Homo sapiens: one gene and its partners. The protein of the gene in region 2 interacts with the protein of the main gene of each other region in a pairwise test. Each region holds a gene or a part of one and is shown on either strand. Other genes may lie near its edges. The genes, in order: BCL2L15, TEAD2, TRIM3 and INPP5A.

Evidence for each region.
Region 1: the proteins of TEAD2 (region 2) and BCL2L15 interact in binary tests that used the Homo sapiens proteins (3 or more experiments, as listed by UniProt).
Region 3: the proteins of TEAD2 (region 2) and TRIM3 interact in binary tests that used the Homo sapiens proteins (3 or more experiments, as listed by UniProt).
Region 4: the proteins of TEAD2 (region 2) and INPP5A interact in binary tests that used the Homo sapiens proteins (3 or more experiments, as listed by UniProt).

What each region holds. Positions count from the first base shown.
Region 1 is NC_000001.11:113,884,554-113,891,781, forward strand, and holds the start of BCL2L15 (bcl-2-like protein 15), read right to left. Parts: upstream 3,029-7,228; 5' UTR 2,823-3,028; coding exon 2,696-2,822; intron 2,106-2,695; coding exon 1,984-2,105; intron 1-1,983.
Region 2 is NC_000019.10:49,340,093-49,345,442, forward strand, and holds the end of TEAD2 (transcriptional enhancer factor TEF-4), read right to left. Parts: intron 3,307-5,350; coding exon 3,139-3,306; intron 2,499-3,138; coding exon 2,346-2,498; intron 1,346-2,345; coding exon 1,232-1,345; 3' UTR 503-1,231; downstream 1-502. UniProt on the Homo sapiens protein: Transcription factor which plays a key role in the Hippo signaling pathway, a pathway involved in organ size control and tumor suppression by restricting proliferation and promoting apoptosis.
Region 3 is NC_000011.10:6,449,923-6,456,950, forward strand, and holds part of TRIM3 (tripartite motif-containing protein 3), read right to left. Parts: coding exon 6,375-7,028; intron 6,254-6,374; coding exon 6,150-6,253; intron 2,201-6,149; coding exon of another isoform or gene 1,952-2,200; exon of another isoform or gene 1,517-1,951; coding exon 1,349-1,516; intron 1,139-1,348; coding exon 970-1,138; intron 700-969; coding exon 629-699; intron 1-628.
Region 4 is NC_000010.11:132,533,330-132,540,808, reverse strand, and holds the start of INPP5A (inositol polyphosphate-5-phosphatase A), read right to left. Parts: upstream 3,023-7,479; 5' UTR 2,713-3,022; coding exon 2,638-2,712; intron 1-2,637. UniProt on the Homo sapiens protein: Phosphatase that specifically hydrolyzes the 5-phosphate of inositol 1,4,5-trisphosphate to inositol 1,4-bisphosphate, and inositol 1,3,4,5-tetrasphosphate to inositol 1,3,4-trisphosphate. Plays a crucial role in the survival of cerebellar Purkinje cells.

The DNA of each region.
Region 1 (7,228 bases), on a different chromosome or scaffold from region 2:
CTGGTTTTGATGGTTAGATTGTGGTTACATTACAGAATGTTCTTGTTTGAGGGAAGTATAAAAGTATTAGGGGTTGATGAAATATGTCAACTCCTTACTGTCAAATGATTCAAGAGAGAAATTATTTGTACTATCCTTGCAACCTTTCCCTGAGTTTAGGGCTGTTTCAAAATATATTTTTTTTTATTAAAACAAGTTCAAGTCAAATTATTTATTTATTTATTTATGTTTTTTTTTTGGAGACAGAGTCTTGCTCTGTCGCCCAGATTGGAGTACAATGGCACCATCTCGGCTCACTGCAAACTCCCCCTCCCTGTCAAGCAATTCTCCTGTCTCAGCCTCCCAGGTAGCTAGGATTACAGTTGTGTGCCACCATGCCTGGCTAATTTTTGTATTTGTATTTATTTATTTATTTTGAGAGAGGGTCTCGCTCTGTTGCCCAGGTTGGAGTGCAGTGGCGAGATCTCAGTTCACTGCAACCTCCTTCTGCCTCCTGGGTTCAAGCAATTCTCCTACCTCAGCCTCCCGAGTAGCTGGGATTACAGGTGTGTGCCACCATGCCCAACTAATTTTTGTATTATTAGTAGAGATGGGGTTTCACTATGTTGGCCAGGCTGGTCTCAAACTCCTGGCCTCAAGCAGTCCGCCCCTCTCGGCCTCCCAAAGTGCTGGGATTACAGGCATGAGCCACAGCACCCAGCCAAAAAAAAAAATATGTTTAATGAGAAAAAAAGTCAACTCAGCTATCAACTACCTAGGACAGCCTCAGGGCAAGCAACTGGGAGTAACAGGTCCAGCTCTGCCTGAACATAGTGTAGGCACACTGCCCAAGCTGTGTATAGTAGGACGAATAAAGCATAACGGTTAAGAGGGTGGTTCTTTTTTTGAGACAGAGTCTTGCTCTGTCGCCAAGGCTGGAGAACAGTGGTGTGATCTTGGCTCGCTGCAACCTCCACCTCCCGGGTTCAAGCGATTCTCCTGCCTCAGTCTCTCAAGTAGCTGGGATTACAGGCATGGGCCATCACACCCAGCTAAGTTTTGTATTTTTGGTAGAGACAGGGATTCTCCATGTTGGCCAGGCTGGTGTTGAACTCCTCACATCAAGTGATCCGCCCGGCTAATTTTTGTATTTTTAGGTAGAGACGGGGTTTCACCATTTTGGCCATGCTGGTCTGGAACTCCTGACCTCAGGTGATCCGCCCAGATGGGCCAGGCGCGGTGGCTCACCCCTGTAGTCCCAGGTACTTGGGAGGCTGAGGCAGGAGAATTGCTTGAACCCGGTGGGTGGAGGTTGCAGTGAGCCGAGATCGCGCCACTGCACTCCAGCCTGGGTGTGACAGAGTGAGACTCCATCTCAAAAAAAAAAAGCATAGGCTGGGTGTGGTAGCTCACGCCTATAATCCCAGCACTTTGGGAGGCCGAGGTGAGTGGATCACCTGAGCTTAGGCATTCAAGACCAGCCCGGGCAACATGGCAAAAACCCATCTTTACTAAAAATAAAAAAATAAAAAAAATAGATGGGCATGGTAGCACTTGCCTGAAGTCCCAGCTACTCAGGAGGCTGCAGTGGGAGGATCGCTTGAGCCCAGGAGGTGGAGGCTGCAGTGAGCTGAGATCACACCACTGCACTTGAGCCTGGGTGACACAGTAAGACCCTGTCTGAAAAAAAAAAAAAAAAAAAAGATACTATACTTTGCCAAGAATAAAGTGTTATAAATGTGCTCTGTGCACACTAAGCACAACAGCTGTGATGAAGACCAAGTAGAGACAAACTGAAGGTTCATCAGCCTATGCCCAAAATTTTCCATCTCTGTACCACTTAGGTTTTAGCAATTGGAGAATTCTTGCTATACTTCCTTGAAATATAAGCACCCAAATATTTTCATAGAACATTCCTAGTCACTGTAGTATGGGAGTAGTAAGAAAAGGAAGTTTGAAATAGAAAAAAAAGCAGCAAACAATAGCATGAAGTAGAAACTTGACCTGTCCCTTAATGGTTTCTGCAATGACGTTTTTGGCAGAAGCTTCCAATTCTCCGTTGAACTGGTCACCCAACATCCGAAGGCGACCAGCAATGATAGCCACATCAAAAGAACAAGGCTCTCCTATGACAGAGGGAACACATTTGTTACAATGCTTGAAGCAATGGCAAGTCCCAGGAATCTGGGCAATGAGAAAAATTTGTCTTGTCTTTTAAATAATTTTCATATCATGATCTCCCAAGAGCTTAAATGTTCTGTCAACACCAATAGTCAGAAAGTTTCCCTTCATTGAGAACCTCTTTCGCTTTAGGTGTTACTGAAAGCTTAGAGTTTGCCTTTTGAAACTTAAAGGAAATAAATAAAATATACTGTTTTTTTTTTTTTGAGACCGAGTCTCTGTCGCCCAGACTGGAGTGCAGTGGCGTGATCTCAGCTCACTGCAACCTCCGCCTCCCAGGTTCAAGCAATTCTCATGCCTCAGTCTCCCATGTAGCTGGGACTGCAGGCATGAGCCACCACACCTGGCTAATTTTTCTACTTTTAGTAGAGATGGGGTTTCACCACGTTGGCCAGGCGGATCTCAAACCCCTGACTTCAGGTGATCCACCCACCTTGGCCTCCCAAAGTGCTGGGATTACGGGAATCAGTCACTGCGCCCGGCTGAAAACATACTCTTATTGACCTGCAATCACCGCCTAGGGCAGGAACCTTACCTGAATCTACTTCATCTACACAGCATAGGTTCCGGCTGGCAACCTGCAATGTTGGGCTCAAGAAGTCCATGAGTAGAGTGTTCACAATGCATTCCGTTTGTTCCTCAAAAGTTTGGGAGCTCTTCATTTTAGATGTTTGCTGTCAAGTTTTGCTTTTCCACGAAACAAGCAGTTTTCAGCCCAGCAGGAAGTTAAAAACACTGGTAAATCAACAAATGTTTCTACCTCTTGTAGTTTCCTGACATGTAATCCTGGAACTTTTCCCACTAGCTTTCTTCAAACACAGCTGCTCAGAAAGGTGGGACTTCTCAGAAGGATTACCTACTTGGAACTGGGGAGACTTTAAAGACTTTAGGTTCTCTATCTCAGACCACACCCTAACCACATAAAATTAATGCTTAACTTTTATCGTTAGGTAGCCAACCTAGAACTGAAATAGAGTTCAGGAAGAGCCTCTGGAGTAATTTTATTAAGAAATACTTCCTCGACTTCTTAGGTCCTGCACATGGTATAATTTGAAGGAAGGTTTTGAAGTTACAGTGGACCAGCGTTCAACTTCTGTTTATGGAATTTATTTGCCATAATCATATAATAATTACTTACTGAACAAGGAACTATAGTTGGCACTACAAGTAACATAGAAAAATGATACAGGCACAGTTACTGTGCTCATGAAGCTTACACTTCAGCAGAAATGACAGATATTAAATGAGTAATCGCATTGTTATTTGTGCTATTGAGATCAGTGCACTTTGATCAGTGAAGTGTAACAGGGAATCAAGCCTTTGATCAGTTTAATAGGGAAACAAACCTAGGGGACTGGGAAGGCTTCCTTAAAATAGTACCATCTGACATGAGCTCTGAGGAATAAGTAGGCATTCATTATGCAAAAAGGAGGCATAACACTATTCTAGGCGGAGAGGTAGCAGATATAAAGTCTGGGAAGGTTAAAAAAAAACAACTTGGAATTATAAATGGGGACAACAGAAAATATTTCATAGATAAATTATGAGGATTAAATAAGATAACATGCGGAATGGCCTAGCACTGTTTGGCATACAATAAATGTTAAATGTCCTCCTTTTAGCCCAAGACATAATGACCAGGAGGAAAGAGATCTGAGATTCTCTGTCTAGCAAAAGGATTTTCCTAACAGGGTTGGACTCCATCATTGTTTTAAGAGATCTCATGATTGGACACTTATCTGTAGTGGTTGCCTTCTTAACGTAGCTAAACCTAGATTTTGGGTCTGGGTCTCAGAAGCAGCCATCAAACCTATCAGCAAACTTACCACTCAACCTGTCTGACCTGGTGAAGTTATTAATATTAACAGCTCCAACTAATAAAAGAGTCAAGCATAGGCCGGGCATGGTGGCTCATACCTGTAATCCCAGCACTTTTGGGAGGCTGAGGCGGGCAGATAACCGGAGGTCAGGAGTTCACGACCAGCCTGGCCAACATGGCAAAACCCATCTCTACTAAAAAATACAAAAATGAACTGGGCGTGGTGGTGCATGCCTGTAATCCCAGCTACTAAGGAGGCTGAGGCATGAGAATCGCTTGAACCTGGGAGGCGGAGGTTGCGATGAGTCGATATTACGCCACTGCACTCCAGCCTGGGTGACAGAGCAAGACTCTGTCTCCAAAAAAAAAAAAAACAAAAAAAGATTCAAGCATAAACAGTAAGTCAGTTGTTCAGAATGGAATTTCTATCTTGCAAAATATCAAAGCCAATCTTGTGTTTTCTGTTCCATTCTAAAACACATACAACCACTGCACACCTATTAAAATGGCCAAAATCCAGAACACTGGCAAAACCAAATGCTGGTGAGGATGTGGGTCAGGAACTGTCATTCATTGCTGGTAGGAATGCAAAATGGTACAGCCACTTTGGAAGAGTTTAGCAGTTTCTCACAAAACTAAACATCCTCTTACCATATGATTTAGCAATTATACTCCTTGGTATCTACCCAAAGGAGCTGAAAACTTATCTACACAAAAACTTGCACATGGTTGTTTATAGCAGCTTTATTCATAACTGCCCAAACTTGGAAGCAACCAATATGTCCTTCAGTAGGTAAATGAATAAATAAACTGTGATACATACAGACAATAGACATTATTTAGTGCTAAAAAGAAATGAGCTGGCTGGGCGCGGTGGCTCACGCCTGTAATTCCAGCTACTCAGGAGGCTGAGGCAGGAGAATTGCTTGAACCTGGGAGGCGGAGTTTGCAGTGAGCTGAGAGGGCACCATGGCACTCCAACCTGGGTGACAGAGCAAGACTGTGTCTCAAAAAAAAAGATCAGGCCATGAAAAGATGAGGAGGAATTTGGGTGGTAATTGGACTTTGGGTAATAATTGATGAGGTAAGTTCATCAGTTACAACAAATTGTACCACTTTGATTGAGGATGTTGATAACAGAGAAGACTATGCTTGTGTTGGGGCAGAGGGTATATGGGAAATCTCTGTACCTTTGTTTCAATTTTGCTTTGAACCTAAAACTGCTCTTAAAAAGTCTTAATTTTTAAAAATGATCATAAATTGCTTTTGGAGTAAGAACACAAATTATGTTCCCATGTAGCTAAAGTGCTATTTTCATTTGTCATTATCTGTCGCTCATTCTCTCTAGAGGCAAAAGGGCTGAAACCTCATTATTACTAAGTAGGCTTCAGACTTTTAACATCAGAAGGGCGGGCACTCAGAGAAAATTCTAGGCTAACCTCCTTTCACATTAGAGCTAGCCACTGACAGTTGAAGGATTCTAAAAAATACATTTGTGACATACTCCCAAAACAATATATAAAAAATAAAAATATTTATGAGACCATCCAGCTGGTATTAAATAGCTTGCCCAAGTTCACACATCAGTAAGTGGCAGAATATAAATTTTAAACCAAGTCTGTCTTACATTAAACTCAAGCTTTTCCCACAGTAATAAACCACGTTCCTCATTTCACTATCAATACGCTTATGCCATCTTTGAAATCGAATTTTGAGTCCAGGGGTGGTAGCACGCACCTATAGTCCCAGCTACTCAGGAGGCTGAAGCAGGAGGATCACTTGAGCCCAGATCAAGGCTTCACTGAGCCATGATCACACCACTGCACTCCAGCCTGGATGACAAAATGAGACTCTGTCTCAAAAAAAAAAAAAAAAAAAAAAATCTAATTTCAACTCCTTTGCATTGTCTTGTATAATCAATGTTGTAAAGCTATAGAAACAGAGTACAGGCTGTCATTAGCAATGTGGAGTAAATTTTTTCCAAGTTTGTTTACTTCTTCTGGGCCTTCAATATAGCACCCTCCAAAACTATCCCTTTCCCTCAGCCCACATACCTTCACCCTTGCAGTTGTAATATTGTGCTCTTAATTATTACTGAAAAATCACGAGGCCAGAATTTTTTCACCGTCACTTGTTTCTCTTGCCACCCTCTGACCACAACAAATTACATCCCTCCCCAAAATGCTTTGTCTCATATCATTGGCTTAAAGTCCAGGATCTTGTCATCTGTACCAGATGTGCATGTGGATGAAGATCCTTGAGTGTAACTCCTCTCAACATGGAGACTTGTAACTAAGAAAACAAGTAATGTGTCCCCTCTCCCCTAAACATCCCATATCTAAGAAAGGAATAGAATACTTTTAACAGAACGCCTGTTCAAAAATAGGGGTAATGGAAACACATCACAGTCACTGATTCATAACTATAAAATGATGGTAATATGCAAATTATTGCCTCTGCAGTGTTCCAAAACACTATTGTCTTTGTGGAACCTCATTACATACGTAACATACTGTTTACCTGTCAACTAAGAATGACATTAGATGGCTGCTGTTCTAAGAGCACAGTATAGACTACCTTCATGGATTGTAAAATATAAACATCTACTTATATCACATCATCAAACCCCATGTCTGCAGAAGCTATACAGAGTTCCTAGCAGGGGAAATATTAAAGAATTAACTTCATAGTATACCTGAGCTTTAGTCATTTTGCTTATAAATTAGTAAAACCAGGCTACAGGAGAAATCAGTTCTTCATTGAGATAATCTTAAAAGTATATTTTCCAAAAGCAACAATTTCATATTCTATGTATTCCTCTTACATTATAGAAAAGCAACCAAGTAGAACATAGTCTTCTAAAAGCTCCAATAGTTGGGATCACTTTAGTATTATTATTTATTCAGTTGCTTAGTCATACCTAATTTTCTTTAGATCAACATTTCAGTTATAGTCTTTAATTTTAAAAAGTCAATAAGTTTACTCAATTTCTACCACCTGCATCCTGTTCCCTTGCTACGCCTTTTTTTTTTTTTTTTTTTTTTGAGATGGAGTCTCACTCCGCCACCTGGGCTGGAGTGCAGTGGCACAATCTCGGCTCACTGCAGCCTCCGCCTCCCAAGTTCAAGCGATTCTCCTGCCTCAGCCTCTCGAGTAGCTGGGATTACAGGTACCCGCCACTACACCCAGCTAATTCTTTGTATTTTTAGTGGAGACGGGGTTTCACCATGTTGGCCGGCTGGTCTCAAA
Region 2 (5,350 bases):
GTTCCCGTCGAGCCCCGCCCTTTTCTACCTATCCCCTTCTCCAGCCCCTTCCCGCCCAATTCACGGCCCCACCCCTGACCTTTCTCGCCCGGGTGGGCATCACCCCCGTCTCGCCAGCACCCCTTCGACTTCTCTGACCTCATCTCCTTTCTCTATAGCTCGGGTTCATGACGCTCTCGATATTCCTGTGCAGAAACCTGGACCACGTCTACAACCGGCTCGCTCGATACCGTTAGGCCCCGCCCTCCCCAAAGTCCCGCCCCGCCCCCGTCACGTGCGCTGGGCACTTCCCTGCTGCCTGTAAATATTTGTTTAATCCCCAGTTCGCCTGGAGCCCTCCGCCTTCACATTCCCCTGGGGACCCACGTGGCTGCGTGCCCCTGCTGCTGTCACCTCTCCCACGGGACCTGGGGCTTTCGTCCACAGCTTCCTGTCCCCATCTGTCGGCCTACCACCACCCACAAGATTATTTTTCACCCAAACCTCAAATAAATCCCCTGCGTTTTTGGTAAAATAGCTTTATCCTCTGTCAGAACACAAACAAACAAACTTTGAGAGGGGAGGAAGGAAACCGTCTAGCTCAGGGCTCACTTAGGAGAGGGATGAGATTAGAAAGTTCAACACACTGCTTGTGCAGCGGAGATAAAGTCAAGACCCTAGCACCCACTTATAAATATCTCGTTATATTAAAAAAAAAAAAAATGTCCAGGGCCCACCTGGCTCTGCTCCTGCACAGAAAGGGTTCATCTTCACTTTGTGATCTCACAGGTCATGGAGTGAGGGTGGTAGAGAGGGGCAGAAATTTCAGGGGGAGGGGTGGCTGGGAAAAAGTAAAGGGGACAAGCCAATGTGTAACTAGCGCTCTCCAAGACATGCAGAGGAGTGGGGGTGGCCTGTCAGGGGCTGAAAAGAAAAGCCAGTGCTGTACCTGGGGGGTTGTCTCACTCCTGTCCCCACAATCCCTGATACTCCGGAGTGATCTGTCCTTTCAGACACCCACTGTGAGGTCCCAATATCGGGGTTTATCCTTTCCTCAGTCCCAGCCTGTTCAGCTCTCCAACCAAGTTTTGGGGGCCCCTCTAATGGGGGGGATGGCCCCAGTTGCTTAGGCCTCTGAGGTCAACCCCTTTACATCACAGCCCTCTCCCCAAATAAGAAGCATGAGGTGAGCTGGAGGACCCTCCCTGGGAGGAGGGTGTTCTGGGGGGTGAGCCAGTTTTGGGGTCCCCCTTCAGTCCCTGACCAGGCGGTAAATGTGATGCTGGGCCCCACGCTCGCTGGTGGAGACCTCGAAGACATAGGCGGTGCAGAGCAGCAGTTCCTGGGTGTCTCTGTTTGTCACCACCTGCCAGGAAGGCCAGGACAAGGGACTTATGCTTAGAAGGGAGGGCAGGGACCCCTGTGCCCCCCTGCCAAGCTATCATGGAATACCCAGCAGGCTCTTTTCCATCTCCAGGAAACAGGCCGCCACCATATCATGTTCCCCAGGAGAAAGGGATGCCCAAAAGTCAGTTCCCTGGGCAATGGGGGTTACCCCTCAGCTGAGCGTTGGCAGTTATGGTGTATCACATCTCAGGGTTAATCGGGTTCCCATCACATCACATTCCCTGGGTAAAAGGGGTCCCCATCATGTCACAAGTAAAGGGAGAACCCTCCCTGCAGGTTCCGCGGTCAAGGGGTCTCTGCCTCAGCAGTCCAAAAAGTTAAAGGGGCTCCCACCATATCATGTTCCTTGACAAGCTGAGGATCTGCCTTCGAGTGCCCTCCAGTCAGCTTCACCAGGGAAGGAGGGACCCACCTTATGTGCGAGTGCTGTGGGGCTGGGCGTGGTGGCTCACACCTGTAATCCCAGCACTTTGGGAGGCCTAGGCAGGTGGATCACTTGAGGTCGGAGATCAAGACCAACCTGGCCAACATGGTGAAACCCCATCTCTACTAAAAATACAAAAATTAGCCAGGCGTGGTGGGGCGTGCCTGTAATCCCAGCTACTCGGGAGGCTGAGGCAGGAGAATCACTTGAACCCGGGAGGCAGAGGTTGCAGTGAGCCGAGATCTTGCCACTGCACTCCAGCCTGGGCGACAGAGCGAGACTCCATCTCAAAAAAAAAAAGAGAGAGAGTGCTGTGACATCCCCACCCTGGGTGAAGGGTCCCCTAAACTAAGGGTCAATGGTGGGGTCCCCGCTGCATCAGTTTCCTAGTTAAAAGAGCCTCAGGCTGAGGGCTCACTTTGGAGTCCCTGCTGTGTCAGTTCCTGGGTGAGGAGATCCCCTAGACTGAGGGTCTGTTATAGGTACTGTCCCTCCACACTGGGGGGCCCCACTCCAGCCCAGCCCCAGGCATCACCTGGAGGATGGTGAAGTTTTCCAGGACGCTGTTCATCATGTATCGCTCAGGCAGCTGCCGCAACTTGTGCAAGAAATTCACCAGGTACTCGCACATGGGCGAGCGCAGCAGGCGGTACACAAATCTGCCGTCCTCCAGCTGGGCCCGTTCCGTCTGAACCAAGGGGAAGGGAGTTGGGAAAATGGTGGCTGAGAGACCCACGGGTCACCCCAGGAATTGAGCTCCACCCTGTGCCTCTAAGATGCCACCACACTCACTCTCACTGCCACCTTCCTTTCATCACCCCACCCACAGTGACTGGAGACTGGGCCTGAACCCTCGGAGATCCGAATCAGGATCTCTGAGCCTGCAAATCACAAGCCCCTCAAAGTGATTCTCTGAACCCCCAAAGACCTCTGGACTCCTCTAACCTCCCAGCCCTCAGATACCCTCCAAAGACCCCTCCATGACGTCTTCAAACTCTGACTTCTAAACTTGAGACTTCCCCAAGTCTCCAGCAACTGTAAGTGTGACTTCTGAACCTTCTTGCCCTAAGAACCTCTCCATATCCATAAGACCCTTCTCAATCTCAGTGACTCTAAGTCTCTATACTACACATTACCTGTCAGCCCGCAGAATGATCCCTGCCTGTGACTTCTGAACTGCCCATTAGCTCCCAACGCATGCATTAAACCCTCAAAGAGGCTGGGACCCACTCCCTCCATGCATACTCCCAAATGCCTGAGTCATGATGGCTTCTGGTCCATTCTGCACCCCCAAGTGCTGACCCAGAGCTCCACCCCTCCAGCCTCACCTCCACCTTCTCCACCACCTGCTTGCCAAAAGAGCAGACCTTGGAGGAACAGGTGAGGGTCATGTGTTCCAGGCTCTCATACTGGCTGCTCACTCCGTAGAAGCCACCACTGCTGATGCTGCCACCGGCCCCTGCCTCCTCACCACTTGGGCCCCAGTTCAGGTCCGCCTGGGAGATGGGAAGGCACAGATGAGTCAGAGGGGACATCCCTTATAAACAGTGGGGACTACCAGGCGCAGTGGTTCACACCTGTAATCCCAGTACTTTGGGAGGCCGAGGCGGGCGGATCACCTGAGGTTGGGAGTTCAAGACCAGCCTGACCAACATGGAGAAACCCCATCTCTACTAAAAATACAAAATTAGCCGGGCGTGGTGGTGCATGCTTGTAATCCCAGCTACTGGGACACTGACGCAGGAGAATCACTTGAACCCGGGAGGCAGAGGTTGCGGTGAGCCGAGATCATACCATTGCACTCCAGCCTGAGCAACGAGAGCGAAACTCCATCTTAAAAAAAAAAAAAACACAGTGGGGACTCTGCCCCATAGCCTACCATTACCCCTGCAGTTCCCGGCTTGATTCTTCAGTGTTGTTTTGTTTTTTTGTTGTTTGTTTGTCTTTTTTTTTGGGGGGGGGGGAACAGGGTCTTGCTCCGTCACCCAGGCAATGTGTGGTGGTACAATCACAGCTCACTGCAGCCTCGACCTCCTGAGCTCAAGTGATCCTCCCATCTCAGCCTCCTGAGTAGCTAGGACCACAGGTGCATGCCACCACATCCAGCTAATATTTTGTATTTTTTGTAGAAACAGGGTTTCACCATGTTGCCCAGGCTGGTCTCCAACTCCTGGGCTCAAGCGATCCTCCCACCTTGGCCTCCGAAAGTGCTGGGATTACAGGCATGAGCCACCGCGTCAGGCTTTCAAAGTTCTCCAAGGGCTGGTTTCTGGAGAAGATCCACCGTCCATCAGCGTTGAAGAAGTCTGGGTCCCCAAAACAGTCTTGGCCCTGTCTCCCCAGTAACCAAAGGAGCCCTGGAATTCAATTTCAACCTTTTTTCTTTTCTTTTTTTTTTTTCTGAGATGAAGTCTCGCTCTTGTTGCCCAGTGCAATGCCGCGATCTTGACTCACTGCAACCTCTGCCTCCCGGGTTCAAGCGATTCTCCTGCCTCAGCCTCCCAAGTGGCTGGGATTACAGGCGCACGCCACCATGTCTGGCTAATTTTTGTATTTTTAGTAGAGACAGGGTTTTGTCATGTTGGCCAGGTTGGTCTCAAACTCCTGAACTCAGGTGATCCACCCACCTAGGCCTCCCAAAGTGCTGAGATTACAGGCATGAGCCACTGTGTCCAGCCAATTCAACCTTTTTCCCTTGAAGCCCGCAACTCAAGAGTTCAGCCCCTTCCAAGGGCCTGGTTACTATGGCAGTTACTTCTTAGCAACCAGTTCAAGATGAATACCTCCCTCTAAGCCCCTCTCACTCTGGTTGCTAAGGCAAGTGGCTACTCCCTAGCAACGGGACCTCACGGAGCCTGAGGAGGCCTGACTCCTCCTCAGAGCACTTCCCCCTCGGCCAAATCTGAGAGGTCAGACTCCCTCCATGACCCCAGTGGCCAAGTGTGTGTAGACAGCTGGCCAAGTGTCACTAGGCCAAGTGGGGCCTAAGGAAGCCTAAGAGCTCATCACACCTTTGGTCTGAGTCACCTCCTTGCGAGGCGCACCTCTTCCTCTTCCTAACTTTAGTTGCTAACACTGTGCCAGGTCCGTCTTCTCAGGGGCCCGACTCCATCTCTCACCGTGGCAAAACCAAAGACCTTACCAGCTGCTCCTCTGAACCCCTTCAGCAGCTGGGCTTCCTAAGGGGGTGGCTCTCCAGTCCTGGGACCTGATAAGGCCTGTCTTAAGCCCCAACAATGTCTAAGCCCTCAGCTGCACATCCCCAGAGCAGTTTCAGGCTTCTGCTTCACATGGCAGAAAGCTCCAGAACCGTGAACAGCAAGCTCCAGAACAACAACACTCCCAGCAAGAACAGTAAAGTTCAGGCCCTCAGCAGGCCTTTCCTTCCTTTCCTTCCTTCCTTCCTTCTTTCTTTCCTTCTTTCTTTTCTTTCCTTTCTTTCCTTCTTCCTTTCTTCCTTTCTTTCTTTCGGCAGGGTCTCATTCTGTCACCCAGGCTGGAGGGCAGTGGCACAATCTTGGCTCACTGCAGCCTCCACCT
Region 3 (7,028 bases), on a different chromosome or scaffold from region 2:
CTGAGTGATCTAAGACACACAGGACTGCATCACTCCCCTGCCTGCAATCCTGTGACTCCCCATAGCTCTTGGGAGGAGAGCAAGCCCCTTAAGGGGGCACACAAGCCTCACTCTCAGCTTTCACGGTCCCCTCCTCAAGCTGAGTCTGAACTACTTGTGATTTCTCGAACACACTATTAAGGTTCCCACCTTGCATTCTTGGCTCTTCCTGTGTCTTTTGTCTCAAACACTCTCGTCCTCCTCTGCCTTCCATTTAATTCCCACTTGTGCTTGAGGTCCTCCTCATATAGTCTTTCCTGAATCATACACTTCTGTATCCCTTCCCACAGTTCCCTGCACCTTCCTATCACAGAATCTATTACATCATATTGTAATTTTTTGGTTACCTTTTTCTCTTCCCTACTAGACTATAATCAAGAAGACACAGAATACATTTGCTTTGTGCATCACTGTATCTCCAGCTTCTAGCATACTGCCTGGGACAAAGCAGCCATGCATAAATGTGTAAATGTGTATTGTTTGAGTGAATGATCTCAAAGGGGAAAAGGAGGAGGTAAAATAGAGAGGAGTCTTGTGGAAGAGGAAAGGATGTTGGGACAGTGGTCACGGAGGGAGGGAAGACACTGACCTTCACTGAATGGTTATGGAAGTCCGTTACTACAATTTCATTCTTGTTGTTCACAGCCACAAAATGGGGCCCTGAAAATACAAAGTGGTCTTCAGGGCAGTAAGCTGGGATGCTGAGTGGGATGGGGAAGAGTATCTGGGAAGATAAAAGCTAGGGTGTTAGGAGAGGGGTGGGGTCTCCAGGACTGAGACAAATTATTTCTGAGATGATAGGGCTAACGTAAGGGAAGTGGGATCTCCAGAGCCAAGATATAGGAGGAGAGGGCCTTTACAGCTGGGGTATCTAGGGGAGTTCTCTGGAACAGGGGTATCAGCATAGATCTTGGAGCTGTCCCCCTATACCTGCAAAGTGGCGGTCAGTGGCCCCACGGCCCCCAAAACGGCCAACCAGTTTGCCATTGGGCTGGAAGGTAAAGACGCAGCAAGACTTGTTGTCGACCACAATGATATGTCCATTCCGGTCTACGGCCACTCCCTTGGGGCCCATGAGGCGGCCAGCTCCAATCTTGGTCTGGAGGAAGAGAATATCCATAAGAGGCTTTATTCTGACAGTGGGGAAAGTAGTCCTAACCCAGTACCAAAGCAGAATCTTGGGCTGGGGAAAGAACAGGGAGTAGGAGGAGGTAGGATTGGATCAGTCCAGACCCTGACCACCAAGAGGCACTAGACTGGTCAGTTCAGCTGGACACCAGGGTAAGTAAAGTGACAGCAGGCCTCTCACCTTGAACTTGCCCTCAGGGGAGAAGATGCTGACCCAACGGTTGTCATAGTCTGCCACAATTATGTCTCCATTGGTGTCCACTGCCACACCTGTGGGGCGCTGCAGCTGCCCAGGTGAGCGTCCTCGGACCCCAAAACGGAACTTGAACTGGCCCTCATTGGAGAAAACCTGGAGCAGAGGAGCAAGGGGAGGGAGCAGGTAGGAGGGGAGACACTGTGGGCACAGACAGAAGGGAGTAGGATCCTGAGGGAGGAGACCCCCCCACCACCATTTATTCAGTCATTCAACAAGCACTTACTGACAAAATCAAACATGGCAGCAGGTCTGGGGCAATGCAACAGAGATATGAATGGGATTGTGAGAACATGAAGGGATGAAGGGGAATGGTGAGAAAAGGCTCCAAGAGAAGAAGATGTCTGAACAAATAGCCTAATGAGGATGCCACATAAACCAAATTCGGCCAGGAAAGGAAGAGGAAAGGCATTCAAGCAGAGTGAACAGATTGTAAAAGGCACAAAGTCCAGTATGGGCACCACTTGAGGACTTGTCCAGTGTGGCTGGACTGCAGGGAGCACCCAGGTGAACAAAAGAAGGAATTATGTTTTATCCTGGGTGTAATGAGGAGTTTCTTAACATTTCTAGGCATAGCAGTGACAAGATCAATTTTGCTTTTAAGAAAGAACATTCTGGCTGTAGGGAGAAGTCAAGACTACAAGCTAGCTGCCCAGTCAGAGGCTGTTGCAGTATTCCAGTTGAGAAATGATGATGGCTTGGACCAAGGAAATTGGCTGGAGGGACGCAGATGGACTCAAGACATATGTAGGAGGTAGGCTCATGAGACTTAGTAGCAGACTGGAATGGGGTAGGTGAGAGAGGAGAAAGTATACAAGAATTAGTCCATTCAGGCTATGGGGCTGACAAGGAAACCTTCCTCCTACACAGAGTGAACCTTTCAACCTCTCCCTTCTCCAACCTCCTCTAATTTAGCTGCCCAATATGCTCAGGTCTCCCCATCCCAAAAGCACCTCCTTTAATCCTCCTTCCCACTTTAGCTAAGCTTTCTGGCTTTTCCTTCATAGTCAAAACATTACTCACTACATAAGTCTCATACACTCTGCTTTGTTATAGGCTCTGGGGACACAAGATGAACGAGAGCCAGGAGCAGCCTTGGAGAACTCAAGTTCTGGGCATTGGCCTTGCTCTTGGATTCAAATCTGTGCCTTCCTTAATGGACTGGTCTCCCCGCCCCGGCCCCACCCCAACTCCATCTCTTAGTCCTGCAGGGCTGTTTAAACTGGTCCCACCAACAGGCATCACTTTCTTCTAATGTGGACCTTCTACTAAGCTCTTCTCTGGCTGACCAGCACAGCTCTTGGGTTCTGCAGTGGTCCCCTGTGGCAGGACAGCACTCATCAGTATGAGAAGGGAGATACCATGAGCTCCACGAGCTAAATAGTAGAAGTGAGGGGGCACTAAAAGGTACAGTTTAGCGGTGAGGTAATGCCCCTCCAGTTTGAGCAGCTCAGGTTCTGGCTCAATACTGATGAGGCTTTGGGATGTCTTGTTCTTCCAGTCCCAGCCTATCCCACCCCTGACACCTGGCCAACTCTTACTCATCTTTCCATTCTTAGAATTTCCAGGTCACTTTTTCAGAGAAGACTAATGACCAAGTACCACCCTCCGCCCTACCAAATCAATATGCACATATAAACTTAGGTCACCAGGATATATGCTTTACAGCTCTCTTCATAACAATTATCACTTTGCAGCTAAATAACTGTTAAATATCGGTGTCCCCTTCTAAGGATGTAAGCCTCGCATGGCATAAGGACTGCATCTGTTTTGTTTGCTGCTGCACTTGCAGCACTGATATGGCATTTGGCACATAGTAGGCATTCAACAAATGAATGAACTCCCCAGCTCAATCTCAGACCTGAACTGGACATCTCCACTTGAATGCCGCATAGCTATCTCAAACATCTGCAAAAGTGAATTCATCAACTTAAACCTGGGCCTGCTCCTGAATGGCAACACCATCTACCCAGTCCACAAAGTCCTGCCATTCTTGACATTTGACGATTTAGCAAAATCTGCCATTCTTGCTTCCTTAATATCTCTAGAATCTGCTGGTGTCCTAGTTTGGTCCTTAACATCTCTCTCCTATACCATGGTATCTGAAAGTAGATCCCTGACTTCAGGGATCTCACAGTCTAGTGGGGGAGAAAGACTTAAACCAAAATAAAACAAAACAAAACCAGACAAAAACAAAAACAAACCAGTGATTCCAGTAAAGTATGAAAAGTACTATAGCAAAAGGCTGAGGGAACTGAGAAGAATGTGATTTAACATTCTGCCTAAGGGAATGAGGGAGTTTTCACAGAAGAGCTGATAAAACTGGAAGCTTAGACAATTACACAAGGACATAATATATACAAATCAAATTATTAATTCAGAATCACAAAATGTTTTTTGTCTTCTGTCAACTGATGCTGGTTCCACTCAGTGAGGTCTGCCTCATCCTCCACCATAGAAGTGTCCAAAAGAGAAAACGGTCATGTCGTGAGGACCCCAATCCCCATGTACTGAGAGGAGGAGGGGGATCAGACCTCATCAGGGAGCCCAGCCCATGCCAGCCCTAAGGACTCCAGAGTAAGAGAAGCAGAAATTCAACTTAGAAATCTGAGCCAGGCTCCTAGCAGTGGCGACATAGAGGGCAGGTGGAAGTAGAAGCAAGAGGAGGACTGCTATAGAAGTAGCAGGTGTTTGGAAGAGAGTGGAGCTATACCAGGTGTTCCCTCTCAATTCCCCACTCTGAAACAATGGGGAGGCCAGGTGCAGTGGCTCATGCCTGTAATCCCAGCACTTTCAGAGGCCAAGGCAGGAGGATAGCTTGAGCCTAGGAGTTCCAGACCAGCCCAAACAATATAGTGAAACCCCGTCTTTACTAAAAATAAAAATAAAATAAAATAAATTAGCCAGGTATAGTGGCATGCGCCTGTAGTCCCAGCTACTCGGGAGGCTGAAGTAGGAGGATTGCTTGAGCACAGGAGGTCAAGGCTGCAGTGAGCTGTGATCATAGCACTGTACTCCAGCCTGGACAACAGAGACCCTGTCTCAAAAAAAAAAAAAAAAACTATGAGGAAGTTCAGCCCCCTCACCAGGACAGACAAAGTGGCACTTGTTTTTCTGTGCATGTGAGCAGTGAGCACACCTGTGTGTGTGCACAACAGAGAAGGGGTCCCAAATCTCAACTTTTATGCCAGGAAGCATTCCCAGCCTAGGGAGTTGGAAAGGAGCTGGAAGGTGTAACTGAGTAGGGAACTGAGCACCACCTCATTACTCCCCCGCAATCCCCTCCTCACTATCCAGGCTGGGCCCAAATGCCTTCCTGTGCTGCACAGGGCCTCTCCATTCCTCTGCTCTTAGAAATAGGGTAGGAGTAAAGGACGACTGGACAGAACTGGGAATATGGCCACAGAAGAGTCCCTTGCACTTTTAGACTGTTAGGTGAAAAGCAGGGGTCAGAGAGTAGCCGTCACTGAGGGAAAGGACCTTAGCAGAGCTGGATCGATGACATGAGTACTCAAGCAGGGTCAGGAAGTTTAAACGTATAGGTGTTTAGAAGTAAGGATCTTCAGCGAAAAGTTTTGCTACCCAGTAAAATGTTTCGAAGAAGTAAAGTGCATGGTAGTTAGAAACAATCCCCTATAGGATAAAATCAAAATTCCACACTCCATCTCCAAAACCAATTACAATCTGACCTCAGCTACCCCTGGCTTCTAATAGTAATCTACCTCCAGGCCTGCTGGGCTCCTTCCAGTTCCCTGAACCACCTCCTCCAGCACTTTCCCACCTGCTTGCCTTTGTTTACAGCCTCCACCTGGACGATGATATTTTTAACAATAGCTAACATCAGAAGTTTCACTAGATGTCAAGTATAGTACATCATTTAACACTCCCCGCAACCCTATCAGATATACTTTTCCTAATTTTACACATGAGTTAACTGAAGCTCAAAGAGGTCATGTGACTTGTTAGTATGTGACAGAGCTAGGATTCAAGCTCAGGTGTCTGGTTTCAGAGCCTGAGCTTTTAACTGCTCTGCTGTGTCAACTACCCTGGTGCCCACTGTACTAGGCTCTGAGCTTTTACTACAAGAAACAGAGGGAAAAAAAGGCACATTTCCTGGCTTTGAAAAGGAGCTCACAGTGCAGCAGAAACCATGTTCATTCAGTGCGGTTGATGCCATAATCAGGTGTATGAGGTTATGGGAGAGGCAGTGGGAGGACCACCTGCTACAACTTCTAGCCACTGAAAGATACCCCCTTTGGCCAAGATACCCCTATGCAACTGTCTAGCCAACCTGATAACTGCAGAGACTCCAGACAGACTACATACATTCAGGAGCCAGGCATGCATGTTGGAAGACACGGAGGGCAGGCCACCAGGAGAAAAAGGGAGAAAGTAAGAGGCTCAAGGAGAGGCAGAAGGAAAGGAGGAATGAGCCAGATCTTTGCAGTCCAGGAGCTGACCTGCCCTAAGCCATGGCCTACAAAGTAGAGGCTACAAGCATAGTAAACTCTGGTTTCTGACTGAAGGTGCTGGTTACAGTTGTGGCCTATGGGAATGGGGTGGCTGGTGGGTGCGTAAGGGGTGATCCTTTGATTCACTGCTCTTAAGGAACGGTACTATCTGTAGGGTTCCATCTTCCAGGAGGTGACCTGTACATTCTATCTTTTCAGTAGCCTGTAGCTTGAAAACTCTTATTTTGGTGGTGGAGGAGAGCGGTAAAGGTGCTTACCTGAATACACTGGTTGTTGCTGTCTGCTACCACGATGCGGCCGCTGCTGGCTGCGGACACACCTTGTAAATTGGTGAATTCACCTTTCTCCCTTCCACGACTGCCTGTGGGAAGGGACAGGAGGGAAAACAAAATAATTCATTCAGAGGTCATCTTGAACCTCCCTTCCCTCCCCACCCACTACCTGAGCCTGGCCCATCTGGCTCTGCCCTCGGCTGTCTGTACCAACACGGAAGACGAGCTCATCCTCAATTGGGTTGTCCTTTCGTTTGCCGCCTGTGCTGTACATGGAGCTGGGCCTACGCACTGCCTTCTGGCGCACATGGCTGCCGGGGCCGCCAGGGGACTTGACACGGCGCTTCACATCGTCCGGGGAAGGTGGCAGGTCCCCCGGACGCAGGGCACGCACGCGGAAGGGGCTGCCGCGCACTGGCTGTCCGTAGAGCAGCACCGAGAGGAGCAGCTCGCCTTCCGTGCGCGCTGTGTACACTAGCTCATATGTGCCATTCTTGTGGTCCACCACTGGCACCGGAAGGCGCGTGCCGTCCGGGCCGGTGATCTCTGCACGCAGCTCAGCGCTGCCTGTGCGCACCAACCGCCCGTCCTTGTCTTTGGTAGTGACAGTGAGCGAGGCAGGCTGGCCCACTAGCGCCTGGCGCAGGCCCTCTCCCGTGGCCACCGTTTCGTGTGCAGTGGCGCTCGTGGTGAGCAGTGCGCCCAGATTGAGCACCGATCGCCGCAGACCGTCCACCTCAAGGACCAGTTCCAGCTGTGCATTCTCATGTGGCCGCTCCGGGAAGGCCTGTGCCGCCAATGCAGCCAGCCGCTCTCGCATGTGCTTGCGCACCAGCAACACCTCCGGGGCCGAGCCCAGGCGCA
Region 4 (7,479 bases), on a different chromosome or scaffold from region 2:
TCCAACACGGTGAGACTGGGCGAGAAAGATTCCTTCACAGCCTGAGCACTGCCTGCAGGGTGCGTTCGTCAGCACGGGACGGGCTGCACAAAGGCAAACAGAATCTCAAAGCAGGTCCCCTGAAATCCAGGACAAACCAAGAAACCAAAACTTCCTTCACTCATGAATTTCCTTCCACCGGCCAGGCTTCTGGCCCACAAGTACCACACCCCAAACCTCAACCAAGGAAGGGGGCCTGGGAATGTGAGTGCCTGGCTGGTTTCCACTGAAGGAGACTGGGTCTGGCCCCCGGGGACTGAGCTGCACACATTAAGAAATCTTCAGACACGGACAGATAAGTTTCCACTCAGCCCTGAAATCACAATGCACCTTTCAGAATTAACCTATGTACTGTTGACCTAAACAAATGTTCCTTCTAAACATAAACATAATGCAAAATTCCACATAGCCTTTAAGAAAAATGAAAATTCAGAGAGAATAGGTTGCTAAACAAAAGTGAATTAAGTTACCCAATTTAATATCAACAGAGATAAATACGTGTATACAATTGAAACACAACAAAAATGCTAGAACTCAGAATCAAAGATTACTGGAAAGAATGTCTGCACAGTAAAACTCGTTTCCCTTTGAGACTAAAATGCCCCAGCAAGCTTAATGCTCCTGACATTTCTGAGGCTTTGAAGCCGCAGCTAACGGATCTGAATCATCTGAACAAAACCATGCTATAGTGACATGTTACTGGAAAGCCTAGAATAGAACGCCAAATATACAGACACACACCCATGCCAGGCACTTTTGTAGAAAATGATCAAACATAAACCTAGATGAAGTTGTTAATAATAAAGTGTGAGGAAAACCAGTTCCTCCCCAGCAGGTCAGTATAATACATGGGCACCTGGAAGTTAAAATAAGAAAAACAGAAAAACAGCGCCTTTTGTTAATAAAAACCAAACCTAGCCTGTGCATGAACTGAGCTTCATCAAACACTTCACCCATGCTTGCTGCCAGCAAAGACACAAGACCTCCTCCTGAAATGGAAACCACGCGTGCATCAGTGGCACACATCCGTCATAAAGCTGGTGCGGTGCCCCACTGTTCACCTAGGGAGGGAGGGAGGGAGGGAGGGAGCGTCCGTGGCTCCACGGCCTCCATCTGGGCCACTTGGAGCCTCACTCTGCTTTATTTGGGTTGGCAGCAGGAGTACCAACAGCAGGGTGGCACCGTGGCTGAAACGCCAAACTAGGTCAGACCGGCCTGCCTCTGGGGAGCTCCCAGTGCGCCCTGGGCCTCAGCTCCCTGGTCTCTCCAGAGATGGGGGCACCCTGGGATCCTGGGTGGGAATGAGGCTTGGGTGGGAGGGGCCCTAGAAGGTAAAGGCCATAGGCAGTCAGCATCCCCTTTCTGGCCCTGAAGAGCTTCTCAGCATCTTTTTCTTCAATAAACAAGAAATATAAAGTCCTACAGTGCTTTACAGACTTCCCTTATTTACGAACTAAAGAGATACTAAGTGGCAGGGTTAAATGGGGGCACCCTACCCTCTGGCCCTGCAGGGACAGACAGACAGTGAGGCCGGCACCCAGGCATCCAGGAGCTGGGGCTGACAGCCAGAGTGGAGGGCCTAGGCTCAGAGGACAGGGGCCAGGGGTGGGAGTCAAGGGTTAGGGTTTGGGAATTCTGCAGGCTCAAGGCCCAGGCTTTAAGACCAGGATTCAGGATTCAGGATTCAGGGGCAGGAGCTTGTTGGAGGAAGGGGCCAAGGATGGGATCTAGGAACCAGAGTTAGGGGCAGGGTCCAGAATTGGGTTTGGGGCCTGATTCTGGAACCAGGGTTCCAGGTTCAGGGGTCAAGGACAAGTGTTCAGGGCCATAAGCTGGGGCCTGAGGTTGAAATTCAGGGTTCAGAGTCAGGCTAGATTGGCTTTAGAGGCAAAGGGCCACAGTATGAAGGCTGGGATTCTAGGGCTAGAATTCAGTGATTGGGGAACAGGGACAGGAGGTTGGGGCCACAGCCCTGTGTCAGAAGTTCCTGGGTTAGGGTTTGTGGTTATGTTTCAGGGTTTGGGGTCCAGGGCTCAGGGACCAGAGACAGACGTTTGAGAGCAGGTTCTGTAACCAGAGTTCTGCAGTCAGGATTTGTGGTTCCAGTGACCATGGACCTGGGGTTCAGGGCCAGGGTTGGGGATGGGCATTCCAGGGCCAGGGTTCTGAGGATTCGGAAATCAGGGCTGGGGCTGGGTTTGGTGCGCACAGACCCGGTTTCTGGGGTTTGGGTTCCAGGAACTGTTAACAGGGGTTCTGACAGGGTTTTAATATTGGAGTTTCGAGGTCAGGATTTGCAGACAGGAGTTCAGAGGCAGGGTCCCAGGGTCAACGGTCAGCTGCTGGAGTCTGGAGGATGGGGTTCGGGGATTCAGGGCCCAGGTCTTCAGGTCTCGGGCTTGGGGATCAAGACAGGGGTCTGGGCTCCCAGACTTGGGAATCAGGACAGGAGTCTGGGGTCCCGGGTACAGGGATCAGAGTCTGGGGCCTCTGGGTCTGGAGGTTCACGGTCCAGGGTCCAAGGCTTGCAGTTCGGGACCCCGGGGTCAGGGTCGGGGGTTCCGGGCTTGGGGCCTGCCGCCGGCACGGGGGACTTACGTCGTCGAAGAGCGAGCCCACGTTGGCCGTGACCAGCAGCACCGCGGTGCCCGGGGCGGCCGCCTTCCCCGCCATGGTGCCCGGGCGGCGCGGGCGCTGGGCTGGGCGGCGGCGGCGGCGGCCGCTTCCTCCGGGACCGGCCGGCCGGGGTCTTCGCGGGGCCGCGGGGCGTCAGCTGCGCCGGGGGGCGGCCCCGGGGCGCATCGCGGGCTCGGCGGGTCGGCCGGGCCTGGCCGGGGCTCCGGCCTCGCGCTCGCTCGCTCGCTCGCTGCTCCGCGGCCCCGCGCCCGTCGCTCGCCGCCGCGCCTCACAGCGGCCCGCGCGCAGCCATTAGATCCGCTGGGAAAGTTCCCGCAGCCGCCGCCGACTCAGGCTGAGGGCAAGTCCCGCCCCGCGGAGCCGAGCCCGGGGCGGGGCCTGGGCGGGGCGGAGCCTGACTCGGGGTGGGGCCTGTGCGGGGTGGAGCCGGGCCTGGGGCGGAGCCTTGCTGGGGGCGGAGCCTTGAGGTGCGGAGCCTGAGTTGGGCCTAGATCTGAACAGAGTGGGGCGGGGCCTGCGGGGGGCGTGGCTTGTGCGGGACTTGGTGTCCTTGTGGAGGCGGGGCCTGCCCCGGGGCGGGGCCTCCTTTCGGGGCGGGGCCTACGCGGGGCGCTCTTGCGACCGGCGGCCTAGTACTGGTCGCTCCCGGAGGGCGCTCCTGTCAGTCAGGCCCGCAAGAACGCCGCGCCCCCGCCCCGCCCCCCGCGCCGCGGCTGCGCACAGACTCCGCCCTTCGCACTTCTATGACGTCACGGCCCTGCTCCGGCGGCGCCTCTTAAAGGGGCCCTGGGTTCCGGGCGCCGGCGGCGGGTGCGCTCTCTTGCGGCTCTGAGGGGATGTTCCAGCCCCCGCGCGGCCGCAGTCGTCCAGCCGCGTGCCGGGCGTGCGGGGGAGGGGAGCCCACCGGGGCGGCGGCAGTCGCGCCTGCAGGGGCCGGGCCACGCGCGCCCGGCTCTCCGCGCAGACGGAGCGTGGACCGTGCAGCTTCCCGGCGCGTCCACCCGGCTCCCTGGCCGCGACCTCACTCACGAGGAGCGGCTGCGGCCCAGAGAAGACGGAGGGGAGGCGGCGTGAGGCCAGGCGCATCCTGACGTCGCGGAGGGCTCCGGCCCGGGCCAGGCTGGGTCTCAGCGCGGGGCGTGCAGGGAACCCTCGCAGGGACGAAGGGGGCTCCAGGGGAGGGGGCTGGTGCGGGCCCAGGAGCGCAGAGCACGGAGGAGCAGCCGGCTCGGCGCGGGCCCCGGGGCAGCGATGCTGATCCTGGCCGCCGGAGGGGCCAGAGCATGGGCTGGACCCTGGGTCTGAGGCCGCGGGGACACAGCCGCCGTGAACCGGGACATGCCTGTAGATGGAGGAGGAGAACCACATTTGTCATCTTAAAGCTTCCAGTAGCTACATTTTTTAAAGGTAACAAGTAATAGCCAAAGTTAACAATACGTTTTACTTAACCCAATAGATAGATACATCATTCAACATGTAACCAGAATTTAACAACCTCAGTGAGATTCCTTCACAGGAAGGCTTTGCACGGGCACCTGCCTCTTGGCAGCAGCTCACAAGGCCGCTTCCAGTGCTCAGCAGCCCTGTGTGGCCAGTGGCCACCATGCGGAGCAGGCACTCCGGAGGATTTTGTGGACACAGATTTAGGGGCGGTCAGGGCCTGGCAATGGGCTCTAGCGAGGCTAGCCTCCAGCTTCTGAGTAAACCGCCAAGGCAATGCCCAATGACATCAAAAGGGGCTTGTTCTGTTCTAGGAAGACACCTGCTGCCAGGGCGGGGCGGCAGGAATGGTGCTGCAGGCTCGGGCCCCAGGCCTGTGCTGAGGCCGCATCACTGGCTTGTGTTAACACCCCCAGGGTTCCTCCTTACGGCCACCGCTGAGCAGGACTCCAGCAAAATCCATTTGATGTATAAACCAATGTCTACTTTAGTCAGTAGGTGCCTGCTACAGACTGAATTCCGCCCGCCCCACCCCACCCCACCCCGCAAATTCATGGGTTGAAGCCCTAACCTCCAATGTGACTGTATTCGGAGGTGGGCTAGCGGGGGTAATTAATGTTAAGTCGTGCAGTAGGGCTGGTGTTTAATGTTAAGTCGTGCAATAGGGCTAGTGTTTAATAGAAAGGGCTCAGTGCTGTCCCCACCCTTACATGTGCAAAAGAAGTGGCAGTGTGAGTGCACAGTGGGAAGCTTCACCCCAGCCAGCCACAAACCCTGCACCAGAAATCCAACGCTGCTGGAACTTGATCTTGGATTTCCAGCCCCCAGAACTGTGAGAAGTAAAAGTCTTGTTTCAGCCTCCCAGCCTGTGATATTTCGCTACAGCAGCTGAAGCTGACTGATGTAGTCGCTTATTTTTCTTTTTAACAAAATCAGCACATGCTAAGGGTACCCTTAGTAGAAACCAAATGTGGGGGTGTCACTGATCCCTGGAACGTGCTTTCTGAGAAGGGACATTGCCTCCTCACTTCTCCCCGCAGGCTGTGCCCTCACACCCGGCTGAGGCAGCGTCCCCCACCCCTTGTGCCCTCCCTGCTCCCCCCTCCTCCTCTCCTCGCCAGCCAGCTCCTGCCATGCCTGGACGTTGGCCTCTGCCCTTCCTCCAGGCAGCCACCTCCTCTTTCCCATGCACCCCTCACCCACCACAGGTTCAGCCCCTCACAGTTCTCCTGCCTCCTATATTCCGTGCTCATTACCAGAACCTCCAGAACCCAAGGGGGTGCGGCCTGGACCTCCCACTTCTGCATCCACGGCCCTGGGCATAGCCTGGATGTTCTCATCACCAATGACCACACCAAGGCCGAATCCAGGCACCTTGCCCTCCCCACCACCTCCTCTCCTTTGGTTTCACTTCCGTGGGACCTCATGGAAACCTACAGCCCATGCTGCTCCCATGCCTTCGTTAGCCACCGCCACACGTGCACACCCACACAGAAACACATGCACACGCATGCACTTGCACGCACACACATCTGCACATGCGCATGCACGAACATGCACACGTGCACACATGACCACGCATGTGCACACCTCTTCTTCCTGCCTTACTCTGCTTCTCTCTGAGGGTAGAATCACTTTGTGTACCCACTCCCTCCCCTCTCCCTGCCCCCCAGCACTCACCCAGCTGGCCCCCAGGACTGATTTACTTGCTTACAGTGAACCTGCGCCCAAATTAGAGAAAACTAAATTGGGGGAAAAACTAGACAACACCTTATTTCCATGCCCCTGGCATCTCCCAGGTCTCAGGCACACCCACGTTGAGCACTAGGCCTCCTGGCTCTGCGCATGTGCACTCCACCACTCCAAGAGGCCACTGCAGCCTTCCCCTTCTCTAACCACCAACTACGCTCCCTGGAGGAAACGTTTGCCCTTTGTTGAGGAAGGATTTGCAGTCTGGGATTTTCCCACTGTCACCCTAAATAACAGAGAGAGGCTCTCTAAAAGAAAATGAGATTTACTCGGGAACATTCATTGCAATAGAATATGTGTGCCATCGTAAATTGGGTGTGGGTCAAGGAAGGTAAAGGAAGACAAAGATTTTCAAAGGAAACAGGAGGATTACATCATTGTTTTGAATCAATGATCCTTGGCTACAAGGATCTCCAGGAAGGATGGTGCCAGTCTGAGGCTGGACAGGCAGCTACTGGGCAGATGTCTTCCCAGAAGTGTTTGTGTGTGTAAGTTGTGATGGTCTTTGTGCACGGCTGTGATTTTTGCAGTCTTTTGTGATTGTTCTTGCTATCAAGCATGTCTGCATAAGAACCCTCCCTTCATGCCCTTCCACAGTCTATATGTCAGGGTTTTTAATACCAGTGACTCCATTTGGATTCTGACTGTGATCACGCCACTAAGTCAACACATCCAGCATCTGGTGTCTGTCCTGCACATCCTCCATGCTGCTACATGGAATGAGGTGCCTGTCCCCGCCCAAGGCCACCCCCTCCTGGGTCACGTCGGCAGTTCACAAGCATGCTGCGGTCTCTCAGATCTCTGGAAGCCTCCAGCCTGTGCCCCTCCATTTTCCTCCCCCCTCTCTGCTCTCCTTGCTGCAAACCTTGTCCTAAAAGTCTGCCCATCTCTGCCCCGCATGCCAATGGACCACTCTTGTCCAGGCCCTCGAATTGTGCTTCTCATGCCCACACCCCATGGGGCATCCTAATTCAAGGGCCAGCCCCCCAGGCCTGATTGCAGCTGACCTTCCAATACGGTTGACCACTGGCTGCCTCTTGGAAGTGAGCCTTGCCCTGGCATCTGTGGCATTCCTGCTCTTCCCTCCCAACTGCGCTGACCACCCCCAGTCTCCTCTGCTGGCTCCCTTCATGCTCACCTGAGTTCTGGGGCCCTGGGGTCCTGGGTGTGCCCTTCCTGTGTTCACTTTCTCCCGGCTGACCTGGCTGGGCCCTCACCTTAGATCATATCAGCATGCCGACCGCTGCATGGGCATGGCAGACCTGTCACTGTGCCCGGGGCCTGGCTCTCCTATGTTCAGAAAGACATTGGCCACTTGTGTCACCTGTGTTAAAAGCCACACTCATGAAACCAGGTGAGAGGGAGGATGCCTCTCCCTTGTGTGCCCTTCTTCACCCTTGAAATATTGCCCCGTGTATTTGCTCCTTTGCCAAAATAATAATAATAACGAGTTTCCTAAAGACCTACTTACCTGGCTTAAGGAGATCCTGGGCCCACCTAGTCTGCAAGGAGCAGAGAGGGAGATGGGGAGCAGAGCCTGCCCGATTTTCCTCCTCCTACCATGGATGAATTCCTCAGCAGCTGCCAACCCTCTTCAACCTGGTCAGCCACTTG